Linked DNA regions of Homo sapiens: region 2 is linked to region 1. The links come from fine-mapping of genetic effects on gene expression. Tissue or cell type: whole blood. Region 1 holds a variant in brackets; the other region holds the start of a gene. All regions are shown on one strand. Distances are from middle to middle.

Evidence for each region. PIP is the estimated chance that this variant, and not a neighbour inherited with it, causes the effect.
Region 2: EVA1B starts here. The variant in region 1 is fine-mapped to the expression of EVA1B in whole blood (INTERVAL, PIP 0.96).

Annotation. Positions count from the first base shown.
Region 1 is chr1:35,501,317-35,506,464 of GRCh38, forward strand. All of the region lies in intron 3 of KIAA0319L (KIAA0319 like), which reads right to left. Among named protein-coding and RNA genes, the nearest start is that of KIAA0319L, 54 kb to the right of the region's middle. The variant A/G (reference allele first, on the strand shown) is at 3,162.
Region 2 is chr1:36,321,118-36,326,265 of GRCh38, forward strand. EVA1B (eva-1 homolog B) reads right to left here and starts at 2,528. Exons shown (of 3, transcript NM_001304762.2): 1 at 2,342-2,528; 2 at 1,854-1,950; 3 at 913-1,608. The coding sequence starts at 1,920. The coding sequence ends at 1,178. SH3D21 (SH3 domain containing 21) reads left to right here. Exons shown (of 16, transcript NM_001162530.2): 16 at 1-230. The coding sequence ends at 10. RefSeq lists enhancers at 26-910, 1,797-2,681 and silencers at 1,726-1,915, 2,006-2,055, 2,116-2,475, 2,566-2,795.

The DNA.
Region 1 (5,148 bases):
AATTTCACGGGCCATAATTATCCTATAGTATGCTGGAGGTATTTTCTTTGCTGCTGCTTCCCAATGTCCTCTGCAAACCATTATTCTTCTACCTCCCTGTGAAAACCTCTTCTCCTTTGCCATCTTGCTGCCACTTCAACTCTCATTGCAGCTATCATCTCCCAATTTACTCGTCACTCTTCCTATTTTACTGGTGACTTTGACATCTGGCTTTCAAAAGTCCTCCTCATCCCAAGTCCTACCTGAACAGTAAGAAAGGACAGGCCAGTAAGAGGACAGGCCAGGCGTGGTGGCTCACGCCTGTAATACCAGCACTTTGGGAGGCCGAGGCAGGCAGATCACCTGAGGTCAGGAGTTTGAAACCAGCCTGACCAACATGGAGAAACCCTGTCTCTACTAAAAATACAAAAAATTAGCTGGGCGTGATGGCTCATGCCTGTAGTCCCAGCTACTCGGGAGGCTGAGGCAGACGAATTGCTTGAACCCGGGAGGTGGAGGTTGCAGTGAGCCAAGATCGCACCATTGCACTCTAGCCTGGGCAATAAGAGCAAAATTCCATCTCAAAAAAAAAAAAAAAAGAGGACTGAGTCCGTACAGAATCAGCCTGCTTAGGTTCAAGTCTTGGTTGTACCACATACCTAGCTGTGTTGCCTGAGTTTCCTCATTTATAAAACAGGAACGGGCAGGCACAGTGACTCATGCCTGTAGTCCCAGCACTTTGGGAGGCAGAGGCAGGCGGATCACGAGGTCAGGAGATCGAGACCACCCTGGCCAACATGGTGAAATGCCATCTCTACTAAAAATACAAAAAAAGTCGCTGGGTGTGCCACACCCCTGTGGTACCAGCTACTCTGGAGGCTGAGGTAGTAAAATCACTTGAACCCAGAGGCAGAGGTTGCAGTGAGCCAAGATCGCACCACTGCACTCCAGCCTGGTGACACAGTGAGACTCTGTCTCAAGAAAAAAAAAAAAAGAAAAAAAAAACAGGAACAGTAATAGTAATTCACAAGATTTGCTGTATAGATTAAGAGTTAATACACGTAAAGGGTTCTGAATGGTACCTGGCATATAGTAAATGCTCAGTAAACATCAGTTATTGCTGCTGTCATCATCATCATCATCATCATCATCATCATCATCATCACCATCACCATCATTAAAGACTACCTCAGTGTCCACATGGGTAACTCATTTAACACGTTCTTTGAGCTTGCTGGGTTCTTTGAGCTCCTTGCCTCCAATAAACTTCTTCTCCACTCTACCCCAGCAACCCTCTTCCACAGCTCACCCTAGATTCTGCCATCAGAACTTTACCACCTCCAAAATCTTAAATTCAAATATTACATACTCTGACCACCGCCTCCTATCCTTCCAGCACTCACAATTACCCATTCCTCTGACATCTGCTTCCCATCATGGTAACCACTAAATGCCAAACTTGTCTACTTCTGTAGCGCCTTGCTATCTTTGCCTCTTTTTATACTTTCTCATACTATCTCTCATCACTCTTTTTACAACAACCTCGATTTCCATACCTCATTTTCCTTCTGTACAAACTACCTAGCAAAGTTCCTATCTTGGATGAATCAAATTATCAGGCTTTTCTTGACAGAGTTGCTGAGAGCTACTGAGGAGAATCACACAACTTAAAGATCAGTACCACTGTTATAAATGCATGATCTCCATCTTCAAGGCTACCCAGCAATATTTCTATTTTCTTACCTAGTTTGCCATCTTCTATCCTTCACGATGGCTATTTTAGACCTTTACCCCACTCTCTAAACCTCTGATTTTCCTGTCTATTACCCACTCCCCCCAATCCCATCTACCTCTACCTCTGTTTCTACTATCCATAAATGATCTATCACACTTAAGAAAAAACAAGAAAGAGATGAGAACTACAACAATTTCCTTCTACCCAGTATATAAACCCACCCTAGCTGTGTCCTACCCAATCCTTTCTCTCTGTCACAATGAAGGAAGTATCCTGCTTAAGACTAATACTGTACTCTGTGCTCAGTATTCTAACCTTCCTGCCCTATAAGGCAGTGGTTCTGGTCCCTGGGCAGCAGCATTGGCACACTCCAGGAACTTTCTGGAAATGCAAATTCTCAGAACATACTCCAGACCTACCGAGTCAGAAACTATGGAGTTGGGGCCCGGCAATCTTTTTTATTTCCATCTCTTCAGAGCAAGAAACAAAGACCAATTTATTTTTAACAAGGCCTTCAAGTGAGTCTGATGCATGCTAAAGTTTGAGAACCACAGCTCTAAGGGATTATTCATTATTTATCCCTTTTCCTGTCTTTAATCTCCTTTTTTAGTACAATGGTTCTCTTGCCTGAAAAGCCTCCTATTTTACCAGGCCATATACAGTTGGCCCTTAAACAACACAGGCTTGAACTGCGCAGGTTCATTTATATGTGAATTTTCTCGTGCCTCTGCCGCCTGAGACAGCAAGACCAACTACTCCTCTTCCTCAGCCTACTCAACGTGAAGACAATAAGGATGCCTATAAGATGATCCACTTCCACTTAATGAATACTAAGTATATTTTCCCTTGTGATTTTCTTTTTTTTTTTTTTTTGAGACAGAGTCTTGCTGTGTCGCCCAGGCTGGAGTGCAGTGGTGCAATCTCGGCTCACTGCAACTTCCACCTCCTGGGTTCAAGCGATTCTCATGCCTCAGCCTCCCAAGTAGCTGGGATTACAGGTGTGCACCACCTCACCTCGCTAATTTTTGTATTTTTAGTAGAGGCGGGGTTTCACCATGTTGGCCAGGCTGGTCTTGAACTCCTGACCTCAATTGATACACCTGCCTCAGCCTACCCCAGTGCTGACATTACAGGCATAAGCTGCCGTGCCCAGCCCCTTATGATTTTCTTCCCTTTTTTTTTTTGAGACAGAGTCTTACTCTGTTGCCCAGGCTGGAGTGCAGTGGCGCAATCTTCGCTCACTGCAAGCTCCACCTCCCAGGTTCACGACATTCTCCTCCCTCAGCCTCCCGAGTAGCTGGGACTACAGGCGCCTGCCACCACGCCCGGCTAACTTTTTGTATTTTTAGTAGAGACAAGGTTTCACCGTGTTATCCAGAATGGTCTCGATCTCCTGACCTTGTGATCCGCCCGCCTTGGCCTCCCAAAGTGCTGGGATTACAGGCAT[A/G]AGCCATCACACCCAGCCAATTTTCTTAACATTTTATCTAGTTTAAGAATACAGTATATAATGCATATGACATACATAATATGTGTTAATCGACTGTTTATCTTATTGGTAAGGCTTCCAGTCAACAGCAGGCTTTTAGTAGCTACATTCTGGGGGATTCTGAAGTTTATGCAAATTTCCAACTGCACAAAGGGTTGACATTCCTAACCCCTACACTGTTCAAGGGTCAACTGTATATTCTCGCCCTTTCCAGTCTACTCACCACATAGCCACTATCTGATTATGTCATTCCCTACTTAAAACTCCCTAATGGTTTCCCACTGATCTTCAGATAAAAACCAGTATTTTAATAAGGCCTCAAGGTTCTGCATACCTCTCAAGACTTCTCTTTCACCACCAGCTCTCTTTCTCCGTTTGCCCAGCAACACCAGTCTCTCCCAATTTCTTGAGCTCGCCATATTCTAGGGCACCTAACACACTTTGAAATTGTTATTTCCTCTGCCTGAAATACTCTTTTTCCCTGTTTCTTTTCCGAATTCCTACTTCAAATATCAGCTTAAACTTTCTTTCTTTAAAGTGGCCTAACCTGACACCTTAGTTTGTATTAGGTGCCTGTTGGATGCTTTCACGGCACTCTGTATTTACCCTCTCATTACCCACATCAAGCTTATAATTATTATAATAATTTAATTATTAGAAATGTAATATTCCTTGCCAGAGTATAAGCCTTGTTAAGGCAGAAATGATATTCATCTTATTTATTGTAATATTCCCAGTATCCAGCTTAGTATAGTACCTCGCAAGTAAATACACAATGACTATGACCGAGCCTTTACATACACTGTGGCTCTGTCCAGAATGTTTTTTTACCACCATTAACCCCACCCCAGTACAATCCTACACATCCTTCAAGAAATGTTAAACATCTCGGAGAAGTCTTACCTGCACATACACACCACTTGCCTGCTGAAGTGAATCACTTCTTGTGTTCTTACTGCATTGTGTACATAAGTATGTTAATGCAATAATTATACACCACTGTAAATACCTATCTTCATGTATCAGTCTCCACTAGATTATAAACTCCCTGAGGGAATGAACCATTCTTATTCACCTTTGTATCTCTAAGGCTTAGAAAAGTGCCTGACATTGACAGTAGGTAGCCATAAATGTTTATGGGCATATTAAATCTAGGATTGTTCTCTAATACTGCACTAAAAAGTTTTTTTCTTAATATTAAATCTGGGTTCCAATTCTAGCTATGCTGCATGATCACTGGCAAACTGTTTAACCTCTCTGGGCCTCAGTTTTCTCACCAGGTAAACAGGGCTAATAATGCCTACTTGGAAATATTGCTATGAAAATTAAACAAAATGATACAGTGCAACAATTAGTACACAGAGCGCTTGGCATGTCATAGCCCACTCTGGCTTCAACTTGATAGAGACAACTAGGACAAAACAAATACAAAAATAAGTCACAGCAATCAAGGAAGACTGAGCAGAGAGTGAGTCATTCCTTTTAATCATTTCCCCAAGGAGATCAACAATGAAGAAACATAATAAGCAGAATAAACTCTACTGGTGGTATCTCCCTTGGCATATACAGCTTGGTGAGAATTCACTCCAGAGACCTCTTGGCTAATGGCCACATCCTGCTCCACAGCCCAGCAGGTCAGATCTTAATCTGTAGTACCAAGCATGGTTAATTCTGACTGGAATAGAAACTACCTCATAAAGAATGTGTTTACAGGCGAGAGATGGAGGAGAACTTGACTGTAACCACATCAATCAACTGTTTTGCAATTTGGCAGAAAATACTGCAGAATGGTTGGTGAATACTAACAGCCATACAACTGTACTTACCTGTAGCCAAGAACCAGCTTAGACTAGATAATGAGCAGCTTTCTGCATTTACCAAAACAATGGTCAGACCTACATAGCATGAACATCTCTAGGGTCAAATTACCCTTTGTACATCTGGGCAG
Region 2 (5,148 bases), 820 kb after region 1:
GACCTACTGAGGGTGGGCCTGGGAAGGGACCGCGGCCTGACCTGGCTGGGGCCACCCACGTCCTTGCACACGACTTTGGGAAACGCGAGAAAGTAAACTCTGCCTAGCACGGCGCCACGCCGGTCTGGTCGCTGGGGGCGGGGCCTGCGCGGGGGCAGGGCCTGGGCCTCCGCATTCCTGACGGTCCCTCCCAGGCACATCTGGCCAACATGTGGCTCCCATTACCGTTCCCAAGGCCTGCGCGCGGCTATTTTTATCCACCGGATGGTGAGGGGCGGGGGAGGGTGTCTCCTTCGGACTCCAGCCGCGCACTGGAGAAATGGCGGGCAGGAGGGGCCCAGGCGGGGTCGGGCTCTTGACGCCCGGCCTAGATTCCGGAATCCAGCTGTGCGCCGGGGAGGAGCCGGGCGGGCCTTCTCGCCAGCTCGGACCCCTCCCAGCTGGCCTCCCTGTCCGCTCAGAGGGACTCCTGCCCTCTCGCTTGAACGCACCTCGGCGCAGACGTGAAGTCCACCGTCCAGCCCAAGCACGCATGCTTACACCGGGGCTAGCAGCACCTTAGCCTCGAGGTCAGGGTCCTGAGGCCTGGTGTGTGTGTCATTGCAGTGTATGAACCCAGGGCACTGTGGGGACAGGGCGACGTGTGTCCAGGCGTTTGCCGGTAAGGAATGCGTTTTGAATAAGGAATGCGCGCGCGCTTGCTCTGTGTGTGAGGCTGGGTGCAGGCCTGTGGGCTTCTGCTTTTCTGCTGGCTGTGAAGTGAATGCGGGCAGGTGTGCTGTATCGTCGGGTTGGTGGGTGGGGGTGGTGCAGCTAGGGTAAGGGAGTCAAGCTGGGCCTCAGTCCTGGGGCCCCTGCGTGGCAGGAGCCTGGGGGTCGCTGGGGGCAGGAGTAACAGAGGGAGAGACTGAGTCACTGAGAATGCAGCTTTCTTTCATTTGGTCACTTCACCTCTTCATCGACCCCAGAGAGGGAGTGGGGACCCTGCATGCTGCCCCCTCCCCGCCCCCGGGGTCTTCTGGCAGGACTGGGGAAGGGAGCCTCTCAGGGGGTGGCGGTCCACGCCCAGTAGCACCTGGGAGCTGTGGGGGCCGAGGCAGTCCGAAGGTGTGGGGTAGCTCTGAGCTCATGTGCAGGTCCGGTACCCCGAGCGCCTTGCAGCGGGAGCCGGGGCCCATCAGTAATAGTGCATGCGGCCCAGGGTGCCCGTGGCCGTGGGGCTGGGCCCCAGCGTGCCTGTGCCCAGCAGGTCCGGCTGCCCGGTGCGCCAGATCTCCCGCAGGATCCGTTCGCGCTCCTCCAGCCGCTGCGCCCGCTCCAGCTCCTCCGCCGACGTGAAGACGTTGACGTTGAGGGGCCCGTCCGGCTCTGCGGACAGCTCGGGGCCCGGCAGCGTGTCGTCGGGGCCCAGCCGAGTCACCGTGTCCTCCTCGTCCTCGTCGTCGTCCTCGGGCTCCAGGGTGCTGCTGCGGGGGTCCCGGCGCTGAGCCGGGCCCCGGGGCCGCGGGCGGGGCGCCCACGAGATGCTGATGACGAGCAGGCAGAGGGTGAGCAGCAGGCCGAAGCAGACGCCCAGCACGAAGTAGAGGCCGAAGCTCTCGGGGTTGGCTGCGGGGCACAGGGCGGGGGTCACGGAGAGGCCCGGACGGGTGGGGGTTGTCCCACTTCCGAAAGACCCCAGGTTCTAGGTGTGGGGGCGAGGCCTGTAACCCCTACTCGAAGGGCATTAGGGAACCGCCAGCGGGCAAGAGGGCGGGGAGCGGGGCGGAGGGGACGGACAAGGCGCTGGGGAGGGAAGGGGATGGTGGTCAGGGAAGGGTTCAGGCCCCCAGTCTTCCGGCGCCCGCCCTCACCGCGGATGTGCGCGTAGGCAGCCAGGCTGTTGCTGAGCAACTCCATGTCCCTTCGCGGGGCATCCATGCTGCTCTGGGGGGCAGCTCCCCTACCAGCCTGCGAGGTCAGCAAAGTCAGATCCTTCTCCCAGCCTGGAGCCCACCCCGACCCCTTCCGCGGGCAGCTCCTCTCCCGGGAGCCGCGGGCCCAGGTTCCACCCTGGAGAGAGCGCTTCCCTAACTTCGTGGCGGCCCGGGGCCCTGTCGGGGGGAACCCCTCTCCCGGGCGCGGACGCCCCTCCAGTCCTGGGAGCAGCGCCGGGGACCGCGGGAGGCCCCGCCCCCTGGTGAGGTCCCCAGCTGAGGCCCGGTTCCGCCGTCCCGGGGCGGGATGGAGGATAGGGACGCTGAGCCTCCACGCCCCAGGCGGGCTCCGGGAAGGGAAGCTGCCTCTCTCCTCGCCCGGCCGCCCCGCGGGGACCCACCGGCCCGGGGCCAGGCCCACTCACCGTCAGCGCCCCGCTTCCCGGCTGCCCGGCCCCAGCGCGTCCCGCGGCCGCATACACTGGGTCCGGCCGCCCCCGCCCGCTCGGGTCCCGCCGCCCCTCCGGCCCCGCTGGGCTCCCAGGCCGCGGCAGCACGGGCGGGACACGGACCGAGGGACCAGCCGGCGGAAAGTTTCCTCCGAGGAAAGAGGAGGGACGGGGCGGGGCGGGGCGGGCGGGGAGGCGGGGAGGAAAAGGGCTGGGAGAGGAAGGGGAGAGGAGCGGGCAGCCGGGAGGAGGGAGAGCCCGGCCCGCGGGCCGTCCGTCCCCCACAGGAAACCGCCGGGGAGGCCGCGGCAGGGACCCGCCCCCAGGCCACTAACAGCAACAACAGAGAGGCTGGAGCTCTGCCTGCGTGCGGGCCAAGGGCTAAACCTTGGACAGGTTCTTTCACTTACTCCGCCTGACAACCCTGCGACGTGATACCATTATCCCCACTTCGCAGATCAAATAAACGGAGTCTTGGAGAGATTGAATTGACTTTACCAAAACCGTCAGGATTTGAATCTGCTGCTCTCTGATCCTAAAGCCTGAGCTAGAAACCACCGCTCCCCCTCCTAGGAGGCCCCTTCCAGGCAAAGCTGCTTCTCTTCCCCAGACCCATGCTGGACTGGAAGGGAGGGGACTGTCCACCCCTCCTTCCAGGGCCCAGGCTTGAATGTGTCCCCTGGCCGAGCTCTGGTCTAGTCACGCAGGGTTAATGATTGTTGGACTCCAGCTTTGAGCCAGGGCCCGGCCAGCAGTCTCGCAGACCCCAGCGTGGGGCCTCTGTGCCTGCGAGCTCCTGCGCTCTTGTGCACCAAGCAGCTTGTGGCGGCTTGTGGCAGATCCCACCCCATCCCGTCCCCCACCCCAAGGCTAAACCTGCCTGTGCTCACACACGCATTTCCCACCTGGGCTTGTGCATGCAATGTGGTGTGTGATCAGTGTGTGTGGCGGGGGGCTTCCTTCTGCCCTGTCTCCACGGGGCCCCCCCATCATGGACCTCCCCTCCCTTGCTGGAGCTAGAATGAGGGGGAGGCCGCCTTGGCGGGAGCCTTAGAGAGGAGGAGGAAAGGGGGAGAGGAAATTGCAGACATAGCTGAAGGCGCTGCCTGAGGCCTGTGGGCCAGCGACCCTCTCCCTGTCCGGGCTGCAGACCCCTACTCCCCCAGTCCCGAGACTGGGTTCAAGTAGAGGGCAGATCTAGATGGGGGAGGACTAGGACTGACTCCTATGGGGATGGAAAAGGGACTCCTGGGTGTCTTTGTGACTGTTTAGTGTGTTCTGTGAATGTGCGGGCAGGTATTTTTGCCCACATCTGTATATTTGTCTATTAATGTGATGTATTTGAGTATTGTTGTGGGGGCGGGTATGTCTGTATATAAATCTGTGCAGCCACTAGTCAACAAATACTGTGTATGCCTAGCACTTCCTAGTCTAGTCCACAGCATCTGTGGGTTTAACCAACTTTGCATCAAAAATATTCAAAACCAAAATTGCATCTGTGCTGAACATGTACAGACTTTTTTTCTTATCATTATTTCCTAAACAATAGATATATTTAATTTTTTTTCTTTGAGACAGGGTCTCACTCTGTCACCCAGGCTGGAGTACAGAGGTGCTATCTCAGCTCATTCACAACCTTTACCTCCTGGGCTCAAGTGAGCCTCCCATCTCATTCTCCCAAGTAGCTGGGAGGGACCACAGGCGTGCACCACCATGCCTGGCTAATTTTTGTAGAGATGGGGTTTTGCCATGTTGCCCAGGCTGGTCTTGAACTCCTGGGCTCAAGTGATCCACCCACCTCAGCCTCCCAAAGTGCTGGGATTACAAGTGTGAGCCATCATGCCGGCCAATAGTGTATTTTCATAGCGGTTACATTATATTAGATATTATAAGTAATCAAGAGATGATTTAAAGTATACAGGAGGATGTGTATAGGTTAAATGCAAATACTGAACCAATTTATTTTACATCAAGGACTTGAGGATCCTTGGATTTTGGTGTCTATGGGAGGGAGGTCATGGAGCCAATCCCCTGAGAATACTGAGGGACAGTTTTTTTTTTGTTGTTTGTTTTTGTTTTTGAGACGGAGTCTCGCTCTGTCACCCAGGCTGGAGTGCAGTGGCGCGATCTCGGCTCACTGCAAGCTCTGCCTCCCAGGTTCATGCCATTCTCCTGCCTCAGCTTCCCAAGTAGCTGGGACTACAGGCGCCTGCCACCACGCCTGGCTAATTTTTTGTATTTTTAGTAGAGACCGGGTTTCACCATGTTAGCCAGGATGGTCTCGATCTGCTGACCTCGTGATCCACCTGCCTTGACCTCCCAAAGTGCAGGGATTACGGGCGTGAGCCACCGCGCCCAGCCCTGAGGAATAGTTTTAATGGGGATTTAACAATAAACAGAACAGACACAAATCCTTGCCCTCATGGAGCTGACACTAAATTGGAGAAACAATAGAAGATAATCTCAGATGCTTCTAAGTGCTGGGGGGCATGACAGGATAGGGTAATGCGATGGACAACACCTGGGAGTGGCTCTCACAGGGACATCCACAGTGAGACCTGAATCCTAAGGAGGAGGCAGCTGTGCCAGGATCTGGGGAGAGTGTCTGGGCAGGAGTAAGAACATGCTTGGGATACCTCCCTCCAAGGGAAGAAAGCCACGCAGATGGTGTGTGGGTGCAGGGGAGAGTGGCAGGGGCTGCCCGTGCAGGGACTCGATGGCCTTGTTGATGAGCTTTTTCTTTCTTTCTTTCTTTTTTTTTTTTTTGAGACGGAGTTTCACTC